2 separate regions of the Homo sapiens genome follow, and region 1 is linked to region 2. The links come from fine-mapping of genetic effects on gene expression. Tissue or cell type: whole blood. Region 2 holds a variant in brackets; the other region holds the start of a gene. All regions are shown on one strand. Distances are between the middles of the regions. Region 1 holds the start of PAM (peptidylglycine alpha-amidating monooxygenase). Region 2 overlaps PAM (peptidylglycine alpha-amidating monooxygenase).

Evidence for each region. PIP is the estimated chance that this variant, and not a neighbour inherited with it, causes the effect.
Region 1: it holds the start of PAM, and the variant in region 2 is fine-mapped to the expression of PAM in whole blood (INTERVAL, PIP above 0.99).

The regions. Positions count from the first base shown.
Region 1 is chr5:102,750,711-102,759,389 of GRCh38, reverse strand. It overlaps PAM (peptidylglycine alpha-amidating monooxygenase), which reads right to left and starts at 4,085. Exons shown (of 26, transcript NM_001177306.2): 1 at 4,042-4,085. RefSeq lists enhancers at 3,362-3,451, 3,023-3,523, 4,531-5,056 and a silencer at 3,842-4,391.
Region 2 is chr5:102,779,021-102,787,699 of GRCh38, reverse strand. All of the region lies in intron 1 of PAM (peptidylglycine alpha-amidating monooxygenase), which reads right to left. Among named protein-coding and RNA genes, the nearest start is that of PAM, 28 kb to the right of the region's middle. The variant G/A (reference allele first, on the strand shown) is at 5,019.

The sequences.
Region 1 (8,679 bases), 28 kb after region 2:
TTCTGCCTGACTTCCATTCTAAGGCATCATGCTCCCTTTGGTCTCTTTCAATCTTCCCACCTCTTCAGCTGCTAACTACCACTCATGCTTCAGGTCTTCATGTATTCATGCTGCTAGGAAGTTTTCCTTCACCACCACCAACCCAATTAGGATGAGATGATGCACTGTGTGACATTCACCTACCCAGGACCCTGCTATCCTATCTTCTGAGGTTCTCTTCACTACCCTTATCATGGCATGAATCATATGGCATTATAATTTTTTAAAAATTTTCTTTATAAATTTATAATTCTCTGTTTACAGATCTGCATCCCTCTCTAGACCTTTCAGTCATAAGAAAGTGACTATAACTGTCTTGTATACCATTGTATGTCAGTGCCTAGGAAAAAGCCAAACGTTTAGTGTGGGCTGAATAAACACTTGTTGCATAAATGAATGAAAAAAGTTAGCTGAGGAATGGCTATTTCAAAATATTGGGGAAGAGTGTATTTATATTTTTATATATGTATTCATTTTTAAAATGTGGACCACTGAAATTCCATTCCTTCCCCCCTCCCCCTACCCTGGAGAAACTAAAATAACTACTTGAGTCATAGAGCAATAGCTGTATACTGGCAATGTGCTAAGAACCACACATGGATTAGCTCATTTAATGCTGACAACAGTCCTTTCAGGTTAGTATTTCATTATTCCCATTTTGGAGAGGTAAACATTCAACCCCAGATAAAATGAAGGCCTTATTCTCCACAACACAGTAAATTGTAGGGATACATGATGACTGAAATTTCTGCCAGGATACCTGAGAGCACATGACACCAACAGCAGCTTTATTCACAGCCCATCTTTTGAGCTATTTGTATGTGGTTTTAATAATTAGCTTTCGCATTCAAATGGTAAAGAAAGTTCTTATACACACAAGAAGCATTTATGGCTATTATACCAGATGACACGGCTTCCAGGGCAGTAAGAAGGATCTTTAATCTCATTTCACAAATAGAAAAACAAAGGTATGGAACAATAAAGCCAAGTGTAAAGTTAACATTATGTCCCTCAGGCTGCCCCTCAGCCTGCCATGCCTTAATGTGAGAGTCCAATCAAAGCCTCAAAGCCCAGTATGTAAAGCCTAATAAATTCTGCACATAGCAGATAGATAAATTCTTCCTAGGAGGAGGAAAAGAATCAGAGATGTCACTGAGTCACACAAAATACAACCTAGACAGAAAGTCAAGATCCCTGGTCAATCTTTTCCAGGTGGAATTCTTGCTCATTCTTTGCCCCAAGAAAAAAAAAAAAAAAAAAAAAAAAAAAAAAAAAAACAAAATTCTAAGTCTTTTTTTTTTTTTTTTTTGAGACAGGGCCTCTCTCTGTGGCCCAAGTTGGAGTGTGGTGGCATGATCACAGCTCACTATAGCCTCAACCTCCCAGTTTCAAGAGATCCTCCCTCCTCAGCCTCTTGAGTAGCTGGGACTACCGGCGTGCACCACCACACCTGGCTTTTTTTTTCTTTTAATATTTTTTGTAGAGAGAAGGTCTCACTATGTTGCTGGTTTCAAACTCCTGAACTCAAGCAATACTCCCGCCTCAGCCTCTCAAAGTGTTGGGATTACAGGCATGAGCCACCACACTCAGTCTCACCAAGTCTCGTAACTTTTAAAGTCAAATTTCCAGAGTCACTTCAGGACCCACCAGGCCTTAAGGTCCAGCTTATTAAAAATCTTACATTAAATCTCTGTATATTTTTTCTAGGCATTATAATTTCCTTCCTCAAGGAGTTGAGAAAAAAACTGTATGTGGGAACCACAACATACAGTTGAAGGAAGTTAGAATTAAAATTTCTATAGCTTTTAACATTTGATTAGCACATCATACATGTGTAGAATGTTTTCCTAAGCTTTCATTCTAAAAACACAGAATTCATTTTATTTCCAAGTGCACCTTGATGAAGTAGGAGCACATGGCATTTTATTTTAGAAAGCAATGTCTTAACAAACTTGTTATTTCTTCCAATTATGCAAACTCACCAAATGATTTTTTATCTATTTATTTATTTAGTTTTATCTTTTTTTGAGAGAGTCTCACTCTGTCACCAGGGCTGGAGTGTGTGGAGTGATCTCAGCTCACTGAAACCTCCACCTCCCAGGTTCAAGCGATTCTCCTGCCTCAGTCTCCCAAGTAGCTGGGATTACAGGTGCCTGCCACTATGCCCAAGTAATTTTTTGTATTTTTAGTAGAGATGGGATTTCACCATGTCGGCCAGGCTGGTACGGAACTTCTGACCTTGTGATTTGCCCGCCTCGGCCTCCCAAAGTGCTGGGATTACAGGCGTGAGCCACCGCAGCCGGCCAAATGATGATCTTAAAGGGCCTTTGATAATGCATTCTTGACCTCATTCTACTTGCCATGTATAGTCATTAGAAGACTGTTCATATAAAAATATGAAATAAAACTACATAGTCTTTAAGTTACCTTGGAAGGCCCTTCAGGACAAGGAACATACTCTATATCTTTATATCTTTAAAGCATATAGCAGAGTGCATCGCGGAATGAAAATGCCTATTAAGTCAGGAATGCAGGAACGACAGGGCTTACCATTTAATATCAATTCTAAAGCTGATTATTTATTTTTGAGACAGGGTCTTGCTCTGTCACCGAGGCTGGAGTGCAGTGGTATAAACACAGTTCACTGCAGCCCTGACTTCCTGTAAAGCTGATTTTTTAGGCCATTTACTTGCTTTATAAAGTAACTAGAATGGCATGAACTATGCTTTTTTGTGCCTGTGATTATAAACTGAAAATTTACAAACAATATGTCACATGTTATTTGAGCTAAATGTCTGATTTTACTAAAATGAAAGTATCCTTCCTGGATTATTAGAATTAGCAGTAAATTTAAGTTTGCACCTAGAAGAGAAAAGCGATTGTAAAGAATGTAAAACATCTGAAGCAAACAAAGTCCAATAAGATCTTCCTTCTACTTGAATTTCTATGACCACAAAGGCACAGGATGTAAGGTCCATAGCTTTGTACACAGGGATTGGTGGGGACGACACGATTTCAACTCTGAACCCCAATGACCAGCTCCAGGAACACATGCCTTTTAGCCCCGCAAAGCTACTGACCAAATCACCCAGAGAGATAATCACATCTCAGCCAAAGGACCTGAACTCAGACGATCAGAACACAGGACCTGCCATCAGGCAGCTGCACGAGACAAGAGACCGTGCTCAAAATCACGTAATACCCTAAGTCATCCCAAGGGAGCCCCACAACTACCCTCAGCGGCAGGCAGAGCTGACGCATATTTTGCAGATGACAACATACAGGTTCCGATGGGGCGGGTCCCAAGGCCACAGAGCTGGGAAGGTGACTGAACCTAGACTTAACTAGTATCCCAAGTGGTGGATACTTCCCATTCTGCCTTGGAGATCGCCCTTCGCCCGCGTATTACATTCGGAGGCTGGCAAAACGGCAGGAAGAGAGCAAAGCTGGGCAAGGACGGGAAAGAAAGAGGGGAAGGAATTTCCACTGCTTCCCGGCACTCGCCCCCACTCCACACCCCAGGTTGCTACTCCGCGGCGGCCTCTACTTCCCCAAACTAGACTGAAGGGCGGGCGGAGAACCGAGGAGGCTTTCTAGGCGTCACGGAGAGTTCTCCAAGTTGGGGGCAGAAAAGGCGAATGAACAAATTGTACCCCCTAGGGAGAGGGCACAAGGAGAAGTGCGGAGGTGAGAAGGACCGGAGGGGAGGACGACCCCTCACAAACTGGCCAGGGACTTAATAATGGTGATGAAGGGTCGTGAGAGAGGTTTGGGAAATGCGAGAATAGCTCAGTCCCCAAAATCCTCCCTGGCCGCATCGCTGGATCCCCGCCCCATCCCCCCACCCCCGACCCGGGCAGCCCGGGAGAAAAAGCAACAACCTCCTGGGGCACCAGGAATTGGTGGCAGCAGGATCCCGAGCCCAGGCCCCCTTCCGCGCCCCCACCCTCACCCTTGCCCTGACCGCCTCGCAGTGGCGGCAGCAGCGGCAACAACACCAACCTGCGCGACCACGGGCTCTGTCCGGGACGGAAGCCGGAGCCTGCGGGCGGCGGAGCGGCGGGCGGAGTTAGTTGGAGGCTCCGGCTCCCTGGGCGGGGACAGGCTGAGCACGCGGAGGCAGCGGCGGTGGCGGGGGCTCCCTCTCCTCGGCGTGCGCCGGGCCCAGCCGGGTCCGCCGCTCGCCCTCGACTCCTGGGGCAGGTCTCAGTCCCTCCCCGGGGGCGGCTCCCGGGCCAGCCCCGCGCTCGCCTCCTCCACGCCGGCGGCCTCTGCTCCGCCCTGCCTCTTTGGGCGCAGGGGGCGCGGAGCTTGGGAAGTGGAGCCCTGGCGAGTCCCCAGCGATTGCGCGCAGCTTCCCGGGGTTTCCCTGCGGGGGTCGCGTGTGCTGGGTGTCTGAACTCACGCGCGGGCCAGAGGTAGCCAAGAGCTGGAACTCTTGCCCAAGTGCCCCGGGGAAGGGAGTGAAGGCCCGGCCTGAAAGTCTCTGACCCTCCCGAGTCTCGTGTCCCTAGAAGCAGCCTTGCGAGGTGGCCACGCCAGCTGCCCTGAGAGAAGCAGAGGAAAATGTCCGACTCTCCCTCCGCCCAGCTTCGCGCCAGAAGAACGTTTCCCGAGAGAAGGAAGGACCCATTGACCCCCAGCCCTTGCTCCAGCCTGGAGACCTGGCTGAGTGCATGGAACTGGAAGGATGGCAGAGTACCGGGGCTGAAAGCCTGGGAAATGTGCTATTTCTATTCACACCACCCCCTTGCCCGGCCCCTGGATTCAGGCCACCTCGCTCAGGTCTGCGCAGTGCTTCCCAGTTCACACCTCCGACCCGAGGAGGGAGGTCGGTATCCCTTTCTTAGCCTGGCTTCCCGCCTCCATCTGCATCCCTTTCTGCTAAACCTTTTTAACCCGCAGAGTGCCCAGCGCGCACACACCGATCACTTCGCCCCTAAACTGCGGGCAGGGAACTCTGGAGCCACCCACATCCCCAGCCTCACCCCAAAGCAAGAGAAAGCAGGGAGCCGCGCGTGGGGTGGTGGGGGCGGGGCTGGAGAGTTCCAGTAGGAAGGTTTTATACCCAAGAGGCTTGATGATGTGCAGTACTGACCCCACACACAAATTGATATGCGTTTAATTGAAGGCAGGTATTTGCCACTGTCTCTCCCTGTCTGCAGGTAACCGCTTGAGTGCGTTCACCTCGCCTCTTCCATCCCCAGCGCCAGCCCAGCCCCCTCTCTTTCTCCCAGAGTCCCATCCTCCTCTCCCTCACCTCTCCCATCCCAGCTCCCTGCAGCGCGGGTCCCGAGCTGCTCCAGATCCCCAGCACCCAGCTCTGGTCTTTCCAGACAACTCCTCCCCTTCAGAATCTGGTGTGGTAGCAGGGAGGTTGTGAGAAGGGACACTGAGGAAGATAAAGAAGGAGAAGCCAGTGGACTGGGAAGAAGGTAGGAAAGTGCGAACCGAAGGGGTACACCGGAGAGGAGCTATGGGAAATGAGGCAAAGCCTTCAGGCTATAGGGGGATTCCCAGAAAGAAAATCATTTTCTCCATAGGGAAACTACCGATGCTCGCTGTAGACCAGTTGGAAAATCTGTTGTACACCCTCCCAACAGAATTCCTAGTGAGCAGTGGCCAGACTGGTCAGGGCCTAGAGCATGTGTCCAGGAACTCCATCCACTTCCCAACCCAAATTCCAAGGCAGGCGGATGACCCTCATTTTGGAAACTTGATTCTGAGAAGGTGCGAGAAGACACCGAGCTGAGTCTGTTTACGGATCCCGGGCTGTTCTTCATCTTTAGGCATCTCCTAAGTCACTTTATCTCTTCCTCCTGGTCTGGGTTGTTAAGGAAAGCAAGCACTTGAGACCCTCCCTCAAATACGTCTCTCCTCTGTGTGTGTGTGTGTGTGTGTGTCACAGAGAGAAAGTTTGTGGTGTGAGAGAGAGAAGAAAATGTGGAGGGGCAGGAGTTCTAGGCTATGGTGTTTTGTTTCTCTTTGTTTTCTTTCTTCAATTCAGTACATTTTTGTGCCAAGATGATTTTCTTGTTCAGTGGTGACTATATTTTTGCCTTAAATGTGGGAGAGTAGTTGGGACAACACTTCTAAATGTAACCTGACGGTAACCTCTCACACCCTCAAGGTCCTGGTGTGTCTGGAATTGGTGAGTTCTTGGTCTCACTGACTTCAAGAATGAAGCCGCGGACCCTCTCTGTGAGTGTTACAGTTCTTAAAGGCAGCATGTCTGGAGTTTGTTCCTTCTGATGTTTGGATGTGTTTGGAGTTTCTTCCTTCTGGTGGGTTCGTGGTCTCACTGGCTCAGGAGTGAAGCTGCAGACCTTCGTGGTGAGTGTTACAGCTCATAAAGGCAGTGTGGACCCAAAAAGTGAGCAGCAGCAAGATTTATTGCAAAGAGCAAAAGAGCAAAGCTTCTCCAGTGTAGAAAGGGACCCCAGCGAGTTGCTACTGGGGCAGCCTGCTTTTAGTCCCTTATCTGGCCCCACGCACATCCTGCTGATTGGTCCATTTTACAGAGAGCTGATTGGTCTGTTTTACAGAGAGCTGATTGGTCCGTTTTGACAGGGTGCTGATTGGTGCGTTTACAATCCCTGAGTTAGACACAAAAGTTCTCCAAGTCCCACTAGATTAGCTAGATACAGAGTGCTGATTAGTGTATTCACAATCTCTTAGCTAGACATAAAGGTTCTCCAAGTCCCCACCAGATCAGCTAGATACAGAGTACTGATTGGTGGATTTACAAACCTTGAGCTAGACACAGGGTGCTGATTGATGCATTTACAAACCTTGAGCTAGACACAGAGTGCTGATTGGTGTATTCACAATCCCTTAGCTAGACATAAAGATTCTCCAGGTCCCCACCAGATTAGCTAGATACAGAGTGCTGATTGGTGCATCCACAAACCCTGAGCTAGACACAGAGTGCTGATGGAGCAGGGGGCAGCGCTAGTCTAGGAGGCTTGGGGAGGTTCGGTAGCGCAGGAGCCCACAGCCTTGGGGGAGGCTCAGGCATGGCGGGCTGCAGGTCCCGAGCCCTGCCCCGCAGGGAGGTAGCTAAGGCCCAGCGAGAAATCGAGTGCAGTGCCAGTGGGCCAGCACTGCTGGGGGACCAGGCGCACCCTCCGCAGCTGCTGGCCCGGGTGCTAAGCCCCTCACTGCCCTGGCGGGCGAGGCCGGCCGGCCACTCCGAGTGTGGGCCCGCCAAGCCCACGCCCACCCGGAACTCTAGCTGGCCTGCAAGCGCCCTGCTCAGCCCTGGTTCCCGCCCTCGCCTCTCCCTCCACACCTCCCTGCAAGCTGAGGGAGCCGGCTCCGACCTCCGCCATTGCAGGAAGGGGCTCCCACAGTGCAGCGGCGGGCTGAAGGGCTCCTCAAGCGCGGCCAGAGTGGGCGCCAAGGCCACGGAGGTGCCCAGAGCAAGCGAGGGCTGCCGGCATGCTGTCACCTCTCACTGGTTGGCACAGCCAATTTTAGCTGTGCTGTCAGACGCCCAGTAGTGCACCTCACCTCAGAGCCTCAGACTTACAGCCTCAAGGCATTCCATTCTGTGTGCAGGCCAGCTTGGGCAGTGGAGCCAACCACCTCCACTTAGGTGAGGAGAAGCCTCCCTTTTCACTCTCCTCAGGGCTCCACCCCACCTGAGGTTGTCTCTGCACTCTGTCATTACAAAACTAGTCCTTAGTGTCCCAGTTTTACTTTCAAAAATACTATATCCAATTTAATTTAAAAAATCTCTTTCTCCGCCCCCCGCTTGTTTCCTCTAATGCTCAAAAGGCTAGGCCATTGAAAGTTCAAGAGGGTAGAAATTTCTCTTTTTCTTCTCATCAAAAGAGAAATAGTCCTTGAAAGAACCTTATTAAACTTATATCCTTTCTGAATATGGTAATCCCTTGGTATTGATTATTTTAATTTTATATTAATGGTATGATCTTACTGCAAAAGGTGACCAGTCAGCTGATGAGGATAAAGGGTCTAGTTTCTTCCTGGAGAAACTCTGACAGCTAAAAGAATGGGAGGGTTTATTTACAGACAGGAGAATTGGTCTCCGTCAGTGTTGCAAAGTAGATGGAGATGGACATTCCTTTGTAAACGTCTCTCTTTTTTCAGTTTTATTTCATAGCAGCCTTGTCCAACTAATACTGCCAGTTCTCCAAGTCAGTTTGCCTCACACAAAAGTGTTAGGGACTTCAGATGCTACTTCCTACTAGTGTTTGCCTTGAAAAAGAGTGACATTTCAAGCAGAAGTGAGAGAGTAAAGGAGGATTCATGGAAAATATTTCCTGTACCCTTTAAGACTTTTCTCATAGTCATTTTATGTAAAGATGGGTCTGATGGACAGAACTTACTCTGAACAACTTGGCAACTGTTCAGGCCTACAGGCTTCTTTGAAAATTAAAAAAAAAACAAATGCACACTTTCTCATTTCCCAGCACTTCAAACATGATCTAAGAGTACAGAAGGTTACATTCAAGTAGCAGAATAAGCTTCAAAATGGTTATATCAAACAGTCAAATTTGCTTATGCATATTCAGAACGACAAGAGAAAATATTAATTTCAATTTAGAAGTCATCAAAAAGCACCTTGTGGGCAATATAATGAATAGCCCCATGTTAAAGTAATACATGTTTGTTCTT
Region 2 (8,679 bases):
GGGTCCCCTAGGAAGTATCAAATACAAATTTCCTTGCTAAGAGCTGCACAATAGTTTTCTTCCAGGAGTGAAGCTGACTGGGGTCTTGTTCAAGCTGAGTTTAGGCATTTAGACCATACAGTAGCCTATTTTCTGTACCTTTCACTAAGCCCAGGAAATCTGTCCCCATAATTGGGCACAGATTTCCTGGGCTTAGTGAAAGGTATAGAAAAATTTACATTCACATTTTAGCTGTTAAAGGAGGCAGTTTTGTCCCCACAGTTGGGACAGATCTGTCCCCATAGTTGGGATAGATTTCCTGTGCTTAGTGAAAGGTACAGAAAATATGTCTCAGGTCCCAGAACATAAGAACTCTAGACAGCACGGGATAATGGTAGCTACATTTAGAACATGGCTGGAACATGCTCAAGTCAGAAGAGCTGTGTGGGTCTGGCGGGACCTAGAGATGCAAATACCAAGAACTACATCTATTCTTCTTCTGCCAGCTCCCAACCCCACTTGAAATAGATTGAAAAATAAGGATGGTAAAACTATTTTGAGGAGGATAAATAAAATGCTAAGGATGAAGCATTTCTCCTTGGCCTTTCCACCAGCATAATGATTTCTAAATTAAGAGATTTTAAGTGAAATTCAGATCATTATAATTCAACAGCAGTAATGAACAGCCTTAATTTACAAATCTCAGATGGGAGAGTAAGATTTTTTTCTGCTTCCAGAGGTGTTACCTTCTTCTCATTACAGGGGTCAAATATATCTGCTGGGATTTATCATTATTATTATTAATTATAATCAGCCTTTGCTTGGTAGTTATCTTATTTATAACTTTTGATATAGAGTTTTTAAGATATATTCTTGACCTCTATACCACATATCAAAAGAGTAGTAAGTTACTTGTTTCTTTTCAAGTAAATTATTGATTTGCTACTGACTATGCTCAGAATGATGAATGAAGTAAGATTTCAAGCTGTGAAGAATCTGGAGCCCAGTACCTTTCTGACCCGCAACTTTGACCTAAAAAATGGCATGTGTCTAACTTGGAAAGTAATTTTTAGTTGCTATTTATTTAGAAATTATACTACATTTGTGATGCCTTTCTCCATTTTCTCCATGAATGGTTCAAAATTTAATTCCTAGAAATCACTAGTTTATAATCATTCCCTTTGATGTTCAGCAGTTCATAAAACTAACAGAAACCACATTAAAAAACTCAGAAACTGTTAATAGCAACGATTTAGAAAATAAGACTAAGTAGAGAATAAAAAATTGATATTAATAAGAGCTTACACTAATGATTACGAATTAAATTCTAGGCGCTATTCAAAGTACTTTTACAGGTTTTAACTCATTCAATGCTTACAAAAAGCCTGAGATGAATAATACTAATTTCTCCATTTTGCATATTAGGAAATGAAGACGCTCAGAGTTTAAGTAACGTCTGTTCAAAGTCACACCTTCTACATGTGGACAGAGCTCAGTCTGGCTCCAGGATCTGTGAGCTTACATGACACAAAATTGCCTCCTTTAACAGCTGAAATGTGAAATGTATTCTTGCTTGTGTCCTCTCAGTTCTTTCTCTGAAAATGAATGTGTTCACTGTACACTTGACCCAAGAATGGAACAGTAAATTTACAAAATGCAAACTTTGCTTTACCATAATTCTGCTAACATATTCCATAAATTCTAATAATTATTAAAAATAACTTCATATAAATGATCCAATGTAAGAGATTATAGTTTGTGTAAAGTTCAACATCTTTGGCTCAATTTGAAATAAAACGAACATGTTAAAAAAATAATTTAGTACATATATAACCACTTGAATGAATGATTTTTAAAAAGTTAAATACAATGGTGAGAACTTCCAACACCACTCCTTACTCCCCATTTGTTTCCAAAGTTCCAGAAACCAAATTTCCAACGAGACAAAAACATCTCTTACTAGATGCTTGAAGACACCTTATATTCAATACTTTTATGGTTTCCCCCAACTTACACTTTCTAAACACATTTCTGCCTTGTTTCATGATGTCACTTAACTAACTCAGAAAGAAATTATATTTTCTTTGACCTCACTCTCTCCCTCAACCTCTTCAAGCCAATCAGTCACCATATTTCACCATTTCTGTTTTTGAAACATCTCCTGATCCCACCACCTTCCTTCCTTCCTATAACCACCACTCTAGTTCTTATTGCCATCTTCTTACCTCCACATGATACTTCTAAAGGTAACAGCTCTAACAGGTTGCCTTACCCTCTGGTTTGTCCCTTATTTATTCAGTCTCCCACGTATCTACCAAAGTTCTTTTGTAAAACACAAAAGTACAAAGCTTTTTAAGTTTCCAATTGTTTATAACAGAGGTTCTCAAACTTTAAAGGGCATGAGATTCATTTGAAAGGCTTGCTAAGATACAGATTGCTGGGGACTCCCCCCTCCCTTTTCTTATTAAGTGAAACTGGGAAGGGGCCCAGATATCTGCATTTCTTACTAGTTCACAGGTGGTGTTAATGCTGCTGGGCTAGCATCACTACTTTTTAGTGTCCCAATCAGTGCTGTGCATTAAAACTACTTGGGATACCTATGTAACAAACCTGCATGTTCTGCACATGAATCCCAGAACTTAAAGTATAAAAAAACAAAGAACAACAACAAAAAAGTCTATTTGGGGAAGTTTTATAAAATGACTTGCTGAATCCTAAACCAATTATATGCGGGCATTGCTTTTTTGTTGTTTTTAATCCTCCAGGTGATTCTGATTTCCTAAAGTATGGAGAATCACTGGTGTTTAGTAAAAAGTTCCAAATCCTTAACATGGCATTTAAGACCACTCACCTGGTGTTTATGCACTTGCTTTGCCTAAAAATTCCTAGTAAACGAATAACAACAATAATAAAGTTTGCCTATCTAAAAGCATGTATTCCCAAATGATTTTGTGTGAATTAAATGAGATAATATATAGTAAATGCCCGCCAGTGACTGACACAAAGTCATGTTTCACATAAATGTTAACATCAATTCAATTCAACAAATACGTTGAGTATATTTTTAATTCAATTCTACATATATGTATGACTCACCCTTAATATGGAAGAGGCTACATTCTCTGCTGGGAATATCTGGTTAGATAAGACAGAGATGGTACCTGTCCTCAGAAAGTGAACAGCACAAAAGTAATCAGAGTTTAAGGTAATGAATACCAAACGTTAGTGACTTTTGTAATAAGTACTGTACAAGGAGGAGGACAGGGTCATATGAGAGCTTACAACAGTGATACCTAAATTTTTCCAAGCTTACGGTGCCAAGGAAACCTGAAATCTAAGGTGTGTGGGTGCAAGGGGGGAAACTGAAAAGCGCATTCTAGCCCACCAAAACAGCTTGACCCAATAGCACATAGGCAGGAGCAGCTTAGGTGTGCTAGGGACAGAAAGGCTGGTATGATTGGAGCTTAGAGGTTACACAGGGAGAAGAGGAGCACCAGGTAAGAACAGAGAGAAAGATGGGGGTAGATCAGCCGGGCGCGGTGGCTCACGCCTGTAATCCCAGCACTTTGGGAGTCTGAGGCGGGCGGATCACAAGGTCAGGAGATCGAGAACATACTGGCTAACACGGTGAAACCCCATCTCTACTAAAAATGCAAAATATTAGCTGGGCGTGGTGGCGGGCGCCTTTAGTCCCAGCTACTTGGGAGGCTGAGGCAGAATGGCGTGAACCCTGGAGGCGGAGCTTGCAGTGAGCCGAGATTGCGCCACTGCACTCCAGCCTGGGTGACAGAGCGAGACTCCACCTCAAAAAAAAAAAGATGGGGGTAGATCATGAAGAATTTTGAACTTGATCCAAGAGGAGAGGGAAACCATTCAAGTGTTCTACAATTAGGTCTTCCTGAGGCTGTCACCCTCCAGCTGGTATGCTCCCTGACGGCAGGCGCTGGGTTCTATTCATCTTCCCCTTTTCCATTCTAGTTAAGTGGCCCTCATACTGCTGCATGCACATCCCAAGGGATACTCAAAGACATTCCAGTATGCAAACTGGCACAGAGGTAGTTTAAAGAGAATTAATTTCTAGATCTTTGGTCTTCATATATATTCGTTCCTAAAATTGTACTGAGACTGAATTTGGAATCTGCAAATTATTTTCTCCCACCCAGGCCTTCAGGCTTAGTTTTACTATGAACCTTGTCTTACGGTGGGAAAACTTCAGTGGGGACCAAATAAAGGGATGATTCCAAATACTGGTGTTGGTATTGAAAAAATCAATGATTCTAGGCAACACCTTCTATTGCAACTCAGATGAGTTTTAACCTTTGCTTTCACTGAAATTGAAGACAGATCTAAGCAATGGTCATTTAAACTAATTTATGGTGATAGAAAACTGAATCATATTTGTCCCAGGATATTCTGGACATAATCAAAATTATTTATTGTTTATTTGAAATTCAAATTTAACTGGGCATCTCTATTTTTTTTTTTTTTTTGCTAAATCTGGTAATACACCCACATTTTCATTTTGAACTGGGCCCCACAAACTGTGTAGCTGATCCTGGTCATGACAACAAATATAAACATTCATTTCATGAGAGAAATAACTGGGTAATTATATATGCCACCAGCTAAGATCATACTCAATGAAAATACCTCTTATTTGAGTTTTTTTTCTTTCCTGCCCTTGCAACCCCACACAGAAATACACCCTGACATACAATTTTCCTGCCAAGTTTCCATCTTCAAAGTGTAAAAGTGGTACTGCCAACTGGGAAATAAAAACTTGAAAATGAAAGGCCATTAGCATCTCAGATACACCAAAAATATGGGGAGTATAATAGAAGGAAAGAAAACTTTGAAAAGGCAGATTTTTCACAAAAGCAAAATTTCTCAAAAAAAAAAACTGATTGACAAAAAAGCCAACATGTTGCCTGTACCAGTTTCACCAGTAATAAATAAAATTACACACACACACACACACACACACACACACACACAGAGAGAGAGAGAGAGAGAGAGAAATGGAGAAAGGAAGGGAGCAA[G/A]TGCTCTGGGTACTTAACTGATTCTGACTTTTCCACTACCTGGAACTTAAGAACCAAATATTGACTTTGGGAATATCTCTAAATCCTATGACGTGATTTTCACTTTCAAATATTATGTTTGAAAGATTTGCATGTACTTCTCACTTCTCAATAAACATAGATGTTTTCCTTTCAAGTATCTTTCTAAAACAAGAGCCAAGTTTTTTCCTTCTCCTCTATAGCTGTCAATCATATTTATTATTTGTATCTATTTCAAACTCATTTTGCAATAAAGGATTTCAAAATCTTCTCTCCTTCCTCTGGGGGGAAAACAAAGGGTGAAACAAACAAGGAAGATGACTTTGTATAATCCTTTCAATTTAGATCTGGATTCGTTCCGGCTATGAACTTCATACCAGAGTTCTGCTTTAAGTGCTTCAGATATGGACAAGATGAAAGAAGCTCTTATATCCTATAAAGAGCAAATTCACCTTTGGTGTAAATGTTGGAGAAGTGTGAGGTATGATTTACTCTTTGAAGAAAACATAATGTGTTCTAAAGTGTTCAGGTTTGAAATTCTCCAAATGTTGAGCTCCTAGGAATATCCATTTCATGAGCAAGGATACAAAACCAATCCATCCTTATTCAGTTCAAAGTTTAAGGCTGGAGTAAGTAGTGGACAAGAACACGGATGTGGACTGCAGACTGGCTGTTTTCAGATCGCAGACCAGCCACTTACCCTTACGACCTTGGGCAAGCTTTTTTAAGTTCCTGATGCCTCATTTACATAAGGGAGATGATTATAACAGTATCTGTTTTCATAGGGTTGTTATAAGCATTAAAAACGTGTAGTTCTTAGAAGAGCACGGCTAATCCACAAGAAGCACCATGTAAATTGTTGTTATTACATTAGTATTAAAAATATTTCTGGGCTTAATCTATGAATGCAAGTCCCTGTATATAATAACTGACCTTCTCACTTATTTTTCCTGGCATGCATTCTAAAGATCAAGGTTTTAAAGAAAAATGTTATTTTGTCTTTTATTTCCTATCAAGACTTAGAGCTTGCAGAAAGCTAAAAATATTTTATAAATATAGCCTGGCTGAGCAGCACTGCAATGTGGTAAAAGGAACAGCACAGGGGACACCAAAGCCATGCATTAAAGTCCTGATTCACAACTAAACTGTGAACTGCACTTTAGCATTTAGGTTTTTACTCACTTGTAAAATGAGAAGGTACCCACTGAATTTCTATTACTTCTTACAAAACTAAAATTCTGATTTTGTAACCTTTAACATGAATGTCAAACTTGTCAGAAAGGAATTCAATGAACTCTTACTTGCCAAAGGACCTTCTTGGAATAGTCTTTCTTGAAATTCTAGTTCTCCTATGCTCTCATACTACAAAATTTATCACCCTATACTGTACATAATTTCAACCCTTCTAAAGCCAGGCAATAATATAATCCCAGTGTTAAATGACCCAAAAAAATGAGTAATTATTAAAAGCTTTTCTTACTGGCTTCACCTGGCCCAAAAATGTTAGCAATATCTACAAGTATTGTATGCAATGTTTGCATATTAATCAATACTGTATCATTCTCATGACAGATTTTTGGAGCTGATAGAGATCTCAGAGTAGTGCTTTTAAACCTGGGGCAACTTTACCCTCCAGGAGACATTTGGCAACATCTGGAGTCATTTTTGGTTATCACAACTTGAGGAGTACACTGACATCCAGGGGGTAGAAGCCAGAGATGCTGCTAAACAGCCTCCAATGCACAGGACAGCCCCCACAACAAAGAATTACCTGACCCAAAATATGAAAGGAGAAAGAAAGAAAGAGAGAGAGAGAGAGAAAGACAGAGAAAGAAAGAAAGAAAGAAAGAAAGAAAGAAAGAAAGAAAGAAAGAAAGAAAGAAAGAAAGAAAGAAAGAAAGAAAGAAAGAGAAAGAAAGAAAAAGGTGCTGAGGTTAAGAAACCTGCCTTAGAGCAATGATTTTTCATGGGATGCAGTACTGCCCCCTAGTGTGAGATTCAGAAATCTGGTTGTCAGGGCTGGTGTGGGGAGAGCTGCCAGCAAGAGTAGGCAGGAGTTCAGTCGGGAGGTACACCATGCAATGTGCACGACCTTTTTTTAATGAAGTACGGCACCACATCCTACTTAACTCTCAAATGTCCTACAAATCACATAGGTAATAAATGTCTTTATGATGAGCTAAGCTTACGACCCAAATCCATTTTACATAAAAACACAAGTATTTTTTACATGGTTTAAAACCCCTTATGTTTAGAAATGAAGTTACTACATGAATCAAGAAAGACAATATTTAGTTTTATTTGAAATTTTGCCAAGAATTGCTCATCATTTTGGAAAAATCACATCACCAACAACAATGCCAATGGTGGTACAGTAGTCTTCCCTGATCCTCGGGGCATATCTTCCAACACTCCCAGTAAATGCTTAAAACTGTGGATAGTGCTGAATCCTATATATGCTATGTTCTTTTAAAATTTGATAACCCAGATGGCTAACAGGTGAGGTGGGTAGCATATGTAATGTGGATACAGTGGACAAAGAAATAATTCACATCCTGGGTTGGATGGAGCAGGGGGCACACGTTTTCATCATGCTATTCAGAATGGTGTACAATTAAAAACTTATAAATTATTTGTTTCTGGAACTCTCCAAATTTTTGGACCATAGTTGACCAAGGGTAACTATATTAGGATTCCCTGGAGGGTCAGAACTATTAGGAGATATATACATATATATATGTGTGTATATATATATATATATATATATATATATATATGTATATGGGAGTTTATTAAGTATTAACTTACATGATCACAAGGTCCCACAATAGGCCGTCTGCAGGCGAGGAGCATTGAGAGCCAGTCCAAGTCTCAAAACTGAAGAACTTGGAGTCTGATGTTTGAGGGCAGGAAACATCCAGCATCCAGCATGGGAGAAAAATGTAGGCTGGGAGGTTAGGCCAGTCTCACCTCTTCACATTTTTCTGCCTGCTTTATATTCACTGGCCGCTGATTAGATTGTGCCCACCAGATTAAGGGTGGGTCTGCCTTCCCCAGCCCACTGACTCAAATGTTAATCTCCTTTGGCAACACCCTCACAGGAACAATACTTTGCATCCTTCAGTTCAATCAGGTTGACACACGTATTAACCATCACAGTAAATGAAACCACAGATAAGGGGGGGAATACTTTATCTGAGTGGTCAATATAACAAAGACATCAATCTGCATTTGTAGCTGTCACACATACTGTTATTCTACATATAGGATCAAGCTTTTGAACACTTCATTAGGTCTTATGGTGTAATCATAACTAAACATTTACATATTGAATGAAATACACATTATCTTATTATAAATTACTTATTCCTGTATTGCTCTTTTATATTAAAGTTAGGAATTATATATATACATATATATATATACACATATATATACACACACATATATATGCATATTTTTGAATTACACACTTAGGCAGGTTATATTACACATAAATTTCATTTCTTGGTAATAAAGAGGGCACTGCAAAACATATGCTATGAAAAAGGAGACACTGGATCCAATAGGGTTGAGAATCTTTGTATTATAAAGTACCTCACTCAATTCCTTCACTTTGCAGAAGACAAGTTAGAGGCACAGA